Linked DNA regions of Homo sapiens: region 1 is linked to region 2. The links come from fine-mapping of genetic effects on gene expression. Tissue or cell type: whole blood. Region 2 holds a variant in brackets; the other region holds the start of a gene. All regions are shown on one strand. Distances are from middle to middle.

The links. PIP is the estimated chance that this variant, and not a neighbour inherited with it, causes the effect.
Region 1: MGLL starts here. The variant in region 2 is fine-mapped to the expression of MGLL in whole blood (INTERVAL, PIP above 0.99).

The regions. Positions count from the first base shown.
Region 1 is chr3:127,820,236-127,825,355 of GRCh38, forward strand. MGLL (monoglyceride lipase) reads right to left here and starts at 2,280. Exons shown (of 8, transcript NM_007283.7): 1 at 2,074-2,280; 2 at 1,459-1,603. The coding sequence starts at 2,083. RefSeq lists a silencer at 2,722-3,241.
Region 2 is chr3:127,715,275-127,720,274 of GRCh38, forward strand. The region is part of intron 5 of MGLL (monoglyceride lipase); the gene reads right to left. Among named protein-coding and RNA genes, the nearest start is that of ABTB1, 45 kb to the left of the region's middle. The variant A/T (reference allele first, on the strand shown) is at 2,760.

The DNA.
Region 1 (5,120 bases), 110 kb after region 2:
AGTTATCATCTCTAACTAGAGCAAAAGCAACGGAGCAGAGAGGGCTCCCTGCAATGCAACTTCAGCACAGAGATTGTGAAAACCACCCGCAGGCGAAGGGAGGGCAGGGCAGCCAACTTGACCGTTTCTAACCCACTCACCCACCACCCTCCCCCTGTGCCAGGACTGCAGAACCTCTTTATTTTTGTTGACTTCGAACTAGGACAACCTCACTACTTAACCAACAAAGCCCCCCAAGTCTGAGACTCAGACATTAAAAACTTCTATTTTCAATTATTTGTCTTCTTTCTGTATATTGATCAAATTACCACAAACCACTAATCTGTTAGAAATTAATCCAAGATTGAGCAATTCTACAGCCAGTTAAGTCAGAGTGGAGAATTAATGATTAATTAGCATCATAATGCTCAACAACCCCCCCACTTCCTCTAATGCGTATGCACGTACAGACACATTCTTTAAGAAATGTATTACCAGAACTGGTAGGAACTCTTCTCAGCACGTTACCCACTTGAAAACACTAGAGAGAAACCATAGCCAGTCTGTGTAGCTGCCCTGAAGCTATGACTCTATGCCGGGTTTTAAAAGTCCATATCTCTGTGTTTTTAACGTGCAGCTCCCTGGATCATAGATACCTTGATGAAGACAGAGAAGAAATTTTACACCTGTGTGAGGGTTGGGTGATTACTGGAGCACAAAGAGAGACATAATCCAACCACACAATGATCCCTAGGAGACAAGAGGCCTACAAAACAGGTAAAATGTCCCTGGAACAGGAAATGTTCTTGTCACCAGGCCAATTGGTTACCACAAATAAATTCTTTTTCCAAATAACACAAACAAGCAGGGTTTTCCTGCTTCATCCAAGAGGAGGGAGCAGCAGCAGGAGACCAGCTGTCTTGTGTATAGTCCCAATGTTTGCTTCTAATAGCAAGACAAATCCTTGATGGAAAATGTACAAAGTAATTGAGCTGGCAAGGAATCAGAAGGAAATACCCAGGCCCCTTTCTTCCTGGTGACACATGTATGCCATCTTCAGAAGCTCAGAAACAAGCAGGAAAAGTGAGCAAAGGTGAAGATATATGTATTACTTCGGGTTTCTCATCCATCTAGGGGATTTTCCTTAATTGTCGGGTTTGATTTTAAATGAATGCCTGTACAACCGGAAATCAACTCCAGTACAAAAAATAAAGTCATGTGGAATTTTTGAAAATTGCCATACGGTAGGATCCATATCTGAGTTGTTATAATGAAAAAAGAATTCCTGCTTCTTAAATTTAAAAATTATAAAGTATACATTTTAGCTTTGTTAACATTGCTCAGCCTAACATTAAAACGGCAGGGGAAGTAGGTCATAGAGAAAGCGGCCCCGCCCCAGATGGCACATGATAACGACCAGAGGAGAAGCAGGGGCCATGCTCCCCTGTCACCTGGGGTGACTTTCTGGGGAAGACTTACTTGGGTGTGCCTGTGGGTTTCCAGTACCTGCAGAAGAGGTACTGTCCGTCTGCATTGACCAGGTGAGGGAGGTCCTGGTAGGGAATGCTCTGCGGGGTCCGCCTGGGGGAACTTTCCTCTGGCATGCTGGAAGGGTCTTCAGGTCCTAGAAGGAAAAGTGACATATTCCAAAGTCAGAAATATCTCAAGAACATGTATGGATAGGAGAGAAAAGTCTAGTTCAGAGTCAGTAACATTTTTTTAAAAGCAGTTTAAAAAACCCCTCTGTTTCAAAGGTTTAAAACATACATACATTTCTTGCAAACCTCTCCAAGACTGAAAAATCCCATTTGTTCTTAAGAAAATGCTCACTTTATTTTTTAAGTGCCTCATTACAGTTTTTCCCCCTTCCCATCTGTGTTTATTTTAAATCATTTCAGGAAACTTCATCTTAAAGACTATTTTAGCTGTAATCAAGTGGAAATTATAGTCAGCTCTATGGGTACAAAGACCCAGCTGCAAGAAGACCCATCTATCTTAAAATCTCCAAGGAACAGTTTCAAGTGGGCACAATAATGAGGTGGATGATACTCAGATTATTCCTCCCATCTGAAATTCCAAGGATACATGACAAACCTGTTTCCATTATGTGCTGGCGTTTGCATTCCACAACCACGACAGCCTGGAGAATCAGAACCAGGCAAATCGGGCTGTTCCCTCATCTGGGCGGCCCCAAGGCAGCAGGAAGGCAGCTCCGAGCCCTCTTCCCGCACCCAGACCCTGCCTTTCGGGCTGGGGCGCTCAGCCGGGAGCCTGCTTCCAGCTCCCACCGGCAGGCTCTCCGGGGCTCCCCTCCCTCCCCAGGGCGGGGAGCGGCGCTGCGATTCTCCACTACTAGTTCATGTCATCACTTTTCCTAAACAAATCGCTAGAGGGGCTCGGAGAAGGGAGGGGCCCGGGAAACTGGGAAACTAGCTCCGCGCACACCGAGGCACCTCGCAGACGCACAAATGCGGGTGCCCAAGGCAAAGTCGCCCCCAAGGCTTCTCACAAACTTTGCTTCCTGTGCGTCTCCGACAGCACAGGACACGTAGCCCCGAAGCTGTCATCGGAAATGCCGCTGGGAAAACCGGGTGGGCTTCGCCGGGTGTCTGCACCGGGGAAGGTGGGGACTAGAAAGATGGAGTTGATGGGGACAAGTTGGTTTGGGGGCTGGTGCGAAGGAGCAGGGAGGGCGCGCGCGCGCGCACACGCGCGCACACTCGGACACGCGCGCACACACACCGTGCACACACACACACGCACACATGGGTAGCGGGAGCCCACGCCGGGCGTGTCCGGGACCCCAGTGCTGCTCCCCACCCCTGACGGCGGCACTGGCGGGCTGGGGCAGGGGCCGGGAGGCAGTTACCGGGGCCACGAGCGCCGCTGTCGCGTTCCCCGAGCGCAGCGGATCCTCGTTTGCGGCGGGCCAGGGCCGGGACGAGCTGCGCGCGACCGGCTTCGCGGCGACAGGGTGCGGCGTCTGCGCCGCCACTTTATCCCTGGGCCGGCTCGGCGGCGGGGGCGGCCCGAGGTGGGTGGGGACGCGCGGGACCCGGCGGGCGGCGGGCGGCGCGGGGAGGCGGCGCCCGGGGCCCACGTGTGCCCGGCCCGCGGGGAGGAGCGGGGGCGCCGCCCGCCGACCCAGCCACGCACTCCTCTCCTCCGCGCCTCGTGGACAGCCGCGCCCCGGGGTGGCCGCCCGAGGACTGTCAGGGAGGCCTGAACTGAGCTGGGTTCATGGGAGCCTCAGCGCGGGAGGACACACCACACCCACGGGCACACGCGCGCACACAGACCCACAGGCACCACACGTACACAGACAACTCGCGCAGGGCCGCACACTCACCACACGTGTACACATGTGCACTCCCAAAGTCACTACACTGCACGCAGGGACATACAGACACACATCCCAGAGATACCACATGCATACAGACACACACAGACCACACATGCATGCACACACACAAGCCGAGACATAGGCACAGACAACCCACAGAGACACAGAGGTGCACAGACATATGCAGACTATACACCTGGCCCCCACATAGACACAGACACACTCACATCATACACACACAGTCGCACACAGACACACTCACACTTCATTGCAGTCAGACACATACAATGCTGGAGGGGCAATTAACCGGTCGTGGTGGCATGCGCCTGTAGTCCCAGCTACTCAGGAGAATCGCTTGAACCCGGGAGGCAGAGGTTGCAGTGAGCCGATACCACACCATTGCACTTCAGCCTGGGTGACAGAGTGAGACTCCATCTCGGGGAAAAAAAAATGCTGGAGGGGGTCCACTTGACTCTAGGGTAGTGTAAAAGCAGATGGTGCATGGCTACAAATGCCTTGTCCCTTCCTGGCAATCCCCAGCAACTCTCCCGTTCCCAGCGGCTGTGACCCCCAGATAAAACCTCTGGTGCATCTACACAGGCCAGGGCACAGTCTGAGCTCTGTCCAGTATAACTAGCAACGTGGCCGTGGAGGGTAAGGCCACTGGACTGAGACTCCACACCACCTGGGTTGAACATTAGCTCCTCCGCTTGCTCTTTGAGCCTCAGTCTACCTACCTTCAACCTGTGAGTGATATACCTATGCCCCAGTGGAGTGTCCCTGTCTCACACTGACCTCAAGAGGCCTTCCTGTCTTTCTCCGCAAAAAATTCTACACCATAGCAGCGTTGAGGACTGTGTCTCAGCGTCACACTGTGTGTGTCCAAGGAGGCCCAAGTTGCTACAGAGCCTGTGGTCTAACTTGAGAAATAAAACAACAGCCTTTGAGCAGTGGCTTGAGTTGTAGGCACTGCTGAGCGTGACTTACCCACTGTCTGGCCTCCAGCAGGCCACGAGGCCTGGAGCAGAGGAGTGGCTAAGTGACTTCTGGTCGGGGCAGCTCTACAGAATCCATGCAAGAGAGGTTTAGGGGCGGCAGTCTCAGGGGCAGGAAGCTTGGGGGCTTCACTCAAAGCTGGACATGCTAAGTGCACCGGATTTCCGTTGGTTATAATTCATGGAAAGGAAGGGTGCTCGGGGGTCTGATGGACGCTTTTATCAAGGCATTATTTCAAATGTTCCTGGCTCTAACATTTTATGATTTAAAATACACAGCTTGAAAATTTGGAGGAGAGGCCGGGCTCAGTGGCTCACGCCTGTAATCCCAGTCCTTTGGGAGGCCAGGCAGGTGGATCATCTGAGGTCAGGAGCTGGAGACCAGCCTGACCAACATGGTGAAACCCCATCTCTACTAAAAATACAAAAATTAGCTGGGCATGGTAGCGGGCACCTGTAATCCCAGCTACTCGGGAGGCTGAGGCAGGAGAATCGCTTGAACCCGGGAGACAGAGGTTGCAGTGATTGCACTCCAGCCTGAGCGACAGAGCAAGGCTCTGTCTCAAAAAAAAAAAAAAAAAAAAAAAGCTTTGAGGAGAGACTTCACTGAAGTTGTCAGAGGGATCTCAGTAGAAGTGACATTTGCAAACTTGAAGAGATCCCCCAAACTTGGTTATGGACAGAACTGAGACTGTGGTGTGTGGCCAGCCAACTGGGAATTTGGGAGTTAAGAGACAGATCGTATTGTTCTGTATCTGGCTTTTTCTTTTAATTAAACTTATTCTGAGATAATTGTAGATTCG
Region 2 (5,000 bases):
CAGGGCAAGCTGCCCTTTCAAAGGAACCACCATAAGAGATGTTTGCATAGCCCTGATCTTCAGCTCTTTTTCTAAACCTGCATAGTAAGTTCCAAGCCATATTTCTAACAAGACTCAATTGTGTAGAGGCAAATATTTTAATGATAACTTCATGGCTTAAAACAAATTAGGTGTTTAGCCTCTTCCCCATAAAAGCCCCAAGAAAGAGGAGAGCTGCCATGCAGGGGCAGGATGTTTTGAACAACTGCAAAAGAGATCCCCTTTCCCTGCTGCTCTTTTAAGATTTGTTGATTTCATGAGCCTAATCTCTCCTGAAGGAGGAAAGGGTAGGATGGGAGGAGAAAGAGCTAAGCAGAGGAAGTGGGTTGATTGTGCATGAAGGAAAGCAGAACGGTTGAGCAGGGGCCATTGAGGCGGCATGACGAGGAAGCAGTGGGGAAGGAAGGAGTCATGGCAGGTCCCGCACCCAGATGGATCACATTGTCGAGGTCGACCAGATGACTGCTGCTCCTGCTCTCCCACAACCTCCATCCTGAGCTGTGAGCACACCAGGGAAGCCTCAGAGGGGAGTTGCTCACCCAAAAAGGACGTGGAATCCAAAACTTTAACATTCTTGATGCCTTTTCCATCAAGTGTTTCAAAATCCTCGAATAGTCCTACAGGAGCATTGAGAGAGCCTTGGATCCAGCTCAGGAGAGAGGAGCCCCTGCATGGCTCCCCCATTGAGGTGAGACCCCCCGCACCTGCCCCATGACCCTGGTGAAACCAGGTTTGTGTAACCACAGAGCTCCCAATTATGCCAGCTCAACCCAGACCCCAGGGGTCGTCGCCTGAGGATAATTTGGGGCCAAAACCCATGACAAATGGCTACACAGTCACTAGACCCCAACCCCGGAAGGGACAGGCGATGAAATGGAGAAACCAGATTTGGAGACGCGAAGCAGGCACATTTGGATTTGAACTTTGATTCTGAATCCTCGAGAAAGTCTATGATCTCAGTTTCTTCACCTGTAAGACAGGGATAATTAAACTAACTCCGAAGGGATGCTGGGAGAGCTGCATGAGACTCAACCGCTCTGCAGCAGGTCCCTAACTCTCTTCCTGGCTTCTGGCCCTAAGGAGAGGCCCAATAAATAGGTGTTGGTTGACTGAATGAATGAGCAAATGTCATTCAAAGTAGAGACTTCAGGAAAAGCACGTGACGTGCAGCTTTGCAACAAATGACACAGTCATCCACAAATAGGGCAACTGTCCCACAGCTGAAGTCAACATCTTGATGAGCAAGAGGCTTGAGGGGCGTTCCCGATGCACCATCACGCCTGTCACTTTAAATACTAGAGACAGGCACAAATGCCTTTATTGATCCAGAAGGTTTTAATGGCTCCCTGTGATCATTTCTAAGTGAATTTCACTTCTGCCAGTGAAAGCCTTGCCATGAGGAAGGCAATTACAGATGCTGTTTCCTAAGTGGCTCCCACAGGCTGACCTGTGCGCAGGAGGCTAGGACTCCCCACCTTCCGTGGGACAGCACTATGACAAGGGTCATAGGACGGCCATGTGGGGGACACAGCAGGTACCCTCAGGGTTGCCCCAGATTTTCTTGAGAGTGAGAGGACACCTTAAGGCAGCCATAAAACAGAAAGTGCTGTGCCCCTTTCCCAGTGACCCTTGCTGGGAAGGCCAGGACATTTGTTTCCTGATAGATCAGGGGCTCAGCAAAGATGTGTGGCAGGAGGCTTGCTAGGAAGACAGCTGATTCCTGGAATAACAGGTGTCTAGAAAGCCCAACACCCAGCTATTAGAGAGCAGGTGCCCACAGGACAGAGGTGAACTAACCCCCACGGCAGCTCATTGCTGCTGCCCAAAGGGCCAGTGCATGGCTAAGTTCCGGGATCCTGGGTCCAAATTCACCTGAAGCTTGAAAGAGTGGCCATGTTCCACTTGTTTCCCCTCCCTCCCTGCAATCTCCCACTGCCCCAAGGGCCTTCTGGATTCTATGGCTAAAAACAGATGAGTGACATTCAGATGGGAGTGGGCTCCATTAAGGGAAGCTGATTTCAGGTGTGTTTTGGGGTGAAAGGGGGTATCCTGGCATGCTAGCTGGTCTGAGCTGGTGCTCAAGCTGACTCGAGCAAGACATTTGGCCTCATTTCCTTGTCTGTAAATTGGGAATAATTTCCCCTCCTTCCAGGGCGGTGCTGGAGAGGAATGGAGACAATGCATGTCAGGCACCGAGTGCTGGGCTCCCAGGGGCAACCCCCTTCTCCCTACTGGGCGAGGTGCCCTTCTTGGCGGAGAGTGGGAGTATCTTGAAGCACTGGCTGACTCCTGCACCCCTGCCCCAGGAACCCAAGGGACAACCTTGGCAACAGGGAGAGGTCATTTAGAATGATTACTCTCCTGGTAGGCTGAGACCCCCATCCCTCAAGCTTAGCCCAGAGGGATTTTTCTCTTCTAAGAGGCTCCCAGAGAAAGGAGGGGCCCTGCAGCCTGCAGTTGCTCCTGAGTGCTGTCCCAGACAACTAAGGGTGGGAAATCCCGAGGGGCACCTGGAGCTTTACACTCTTCCAGCTGGGGGGCCACAGTTCCACCTCTGTACCCAGGCACGAGCCGCGAGCCATGGTGAAAAACCCCACAGAGTGACCTCACAAATAGCCAGATTTGTTCAGATGCATGGAGTTTTTGTTTCTGAATTTCTGCTGCTACCACTTTGCGAAACCACTTTCTCAGCAGAGACAATGTTTGGGGCCCCCCCATCC[A/T]TCCTCATTGTCTCATCTCCAGGCTAAATATATCCCAGCTTGTTGAAAACCAGCATCCACATAAGAACCAGATGGTGGCGAGATTTAGGAGGGTGGGGGTGATCTGGCGTTCTCACATTGCAGGGGGTGGGGGCTGGCCGTCTTCCACAGGCCAGACTGTACTCACAGACTGGGCATCTCACGCTGCCCCTTACTAACTGGGGGAGTTGCTCTAGAAGGTGCCTGGTGCTGGGAAACTGTTGAATGGCTTGATGGATTGAACACTGTCTGAGGAGTCAGGAGGCTGGGACTTGACTGTGCTCTGCTACCACTCACAGCCACACTCAGGGAAGCCCCTCAGCCCCACCACCAAACAGATTTCCCAAACAGAACGCTAGAGGGAGGAGGTGGGCTCTAGGAATTGTTCCATCATTGAGGCTCATAAGAGCAAACAACTGGAAATGACCCCAGGGCACCCTCCTGAAACCAGGACCTATCCCTGCAGTGGGACCCTTGGTAGGTCCTGATGGGGAAGGAGCACCAAAAGGTTGCTAAGCAAAACCACCAAATAAAACCCAAAACCCACAAAAACAAACACACCAACCAAAACAACAAAAGCAAACACAGAGTACCCCCGACATGCATGGAGCAAGCTCCCATTTGTGTGAAAAAGAAGAACAAATGGAGTGAGCGTTGACGGGAGTTGCAGAGACTCTCGCTGGTACCATGGGTTGCTGCCCACGCCAACCGGGAGAGAGACTCTCCCTGCATCCTCCTTCATATCTTTTGAATTTTGAACCATAGAAATGTCTTATTCTTAAAACTTTTAAATTACATTAAAAAATAGATCCTGTGAGACTTTCAGGAAGGTTGTCAGACCAGACTAGAAAATGTGCCAAGAGTGATGAAGCCTTCCAGGGGCAGGGTGGACGAATGCATCATGGACTTTGTCAGCCAAAATTGCCAGAGATGCAGGAGCAGCAACAGATCTCAGGGAGGGGAAGCTGGGCCCTCAAGTCTGGGGCAAAGGGAAACCTCATTTGTCTTGGTTAATAAGAGGAGACCTGTGTTCCCCCAGGGGCAGCTGGCTCCGAATGTCACAAGGTGATCTATTAGCACAAGTCTTTGAAAGGTCACAGTGGTGGCCTTGCCCAGAAGTGCCCCCTCCCCTGGTCGGTATAGAGCCCAGGGGGCTCTGGGAGGAAACCCTTGTTGGTCCCACCTCCAGGCCCAGCTGCCAGGTCCCCCTGGTGCACTTTATCTGAAAAGTCCTGTGGGCCCTGGCTTTTCTGTAAGGGAAAACATCCATTGCAGAAACATCCATTTTCTTCCCTGGGGAAATATCCTAGATGGGGAGTGGGCAGCCCTGGATTCAAACCCATCACAAGGGCTGCACAATCCTGGCCAGCCATTCATCTTTCCTAAGCCCAGGTTTTCCCATCTGGAAAGTGCTGCTACAACCTGCTCCTGGGCTGGAGAGGAGTTAAATGAGACAATGCCTGGGAGAGCACAGTGCATGCCTGGCATTGGCTGAATTTTGCAGACCTGCATATAGCAAATCCCATGGAACGCAGCGGGAACGCCCCTGCTGCTGAGTCTGGGCCTGCTTATTCTACTTAGATAATTAGAACCATAGTCACGGGAGATGTTGAGTAGGTCATGTCTCCCCCCAATCGCACGTTTCAATGATGAAGAGGTAGTGCACATCCGGGCATTGTGATGCTAAGGGACCTCGATCACTCTGTGACAGAACCCTGGTACTGTCCCACACAGCACTGAACTTCATTCATGATAGTCAATTTCAGTAAGTCCGTGATTTCCTTAAACTGGAGTAAAATTCAAAGGAGATATCATCCATCTCTCTCGCAAACTAAGTAAATCATCGTTCTCTGGCTAAACTATCAGATAGTCCCTGATTTCTCTTTTGCCAAGCCGAGCCCCATTTCAGATGGCTGAAATTTTCTGTTTTTAATTGAAAGCCTGTCTCTAGAGCCAGGAGCAAGTCTGTGGTCATGGGCTGAAGGAAACCCTTTGAGGATGTTGTTATAAGGTTTCATTCCCTGTACTGTGTTGAAGAGAGTGCGGTGGGGGAATAAGAGCTAATGTCATTATTTAAATGATCCCACAGTTCATAGGGTAAGCCTGTGGGTGACGGCTGCCCAGTGCACCTGGCCCCATGACCTACTATCTCACCTCTTTCTCCTTTGAGAGTCTCCAGAACTGACTCAGGAGGCAGCAGCCCCTGCCCAGCACTGGGGTGAG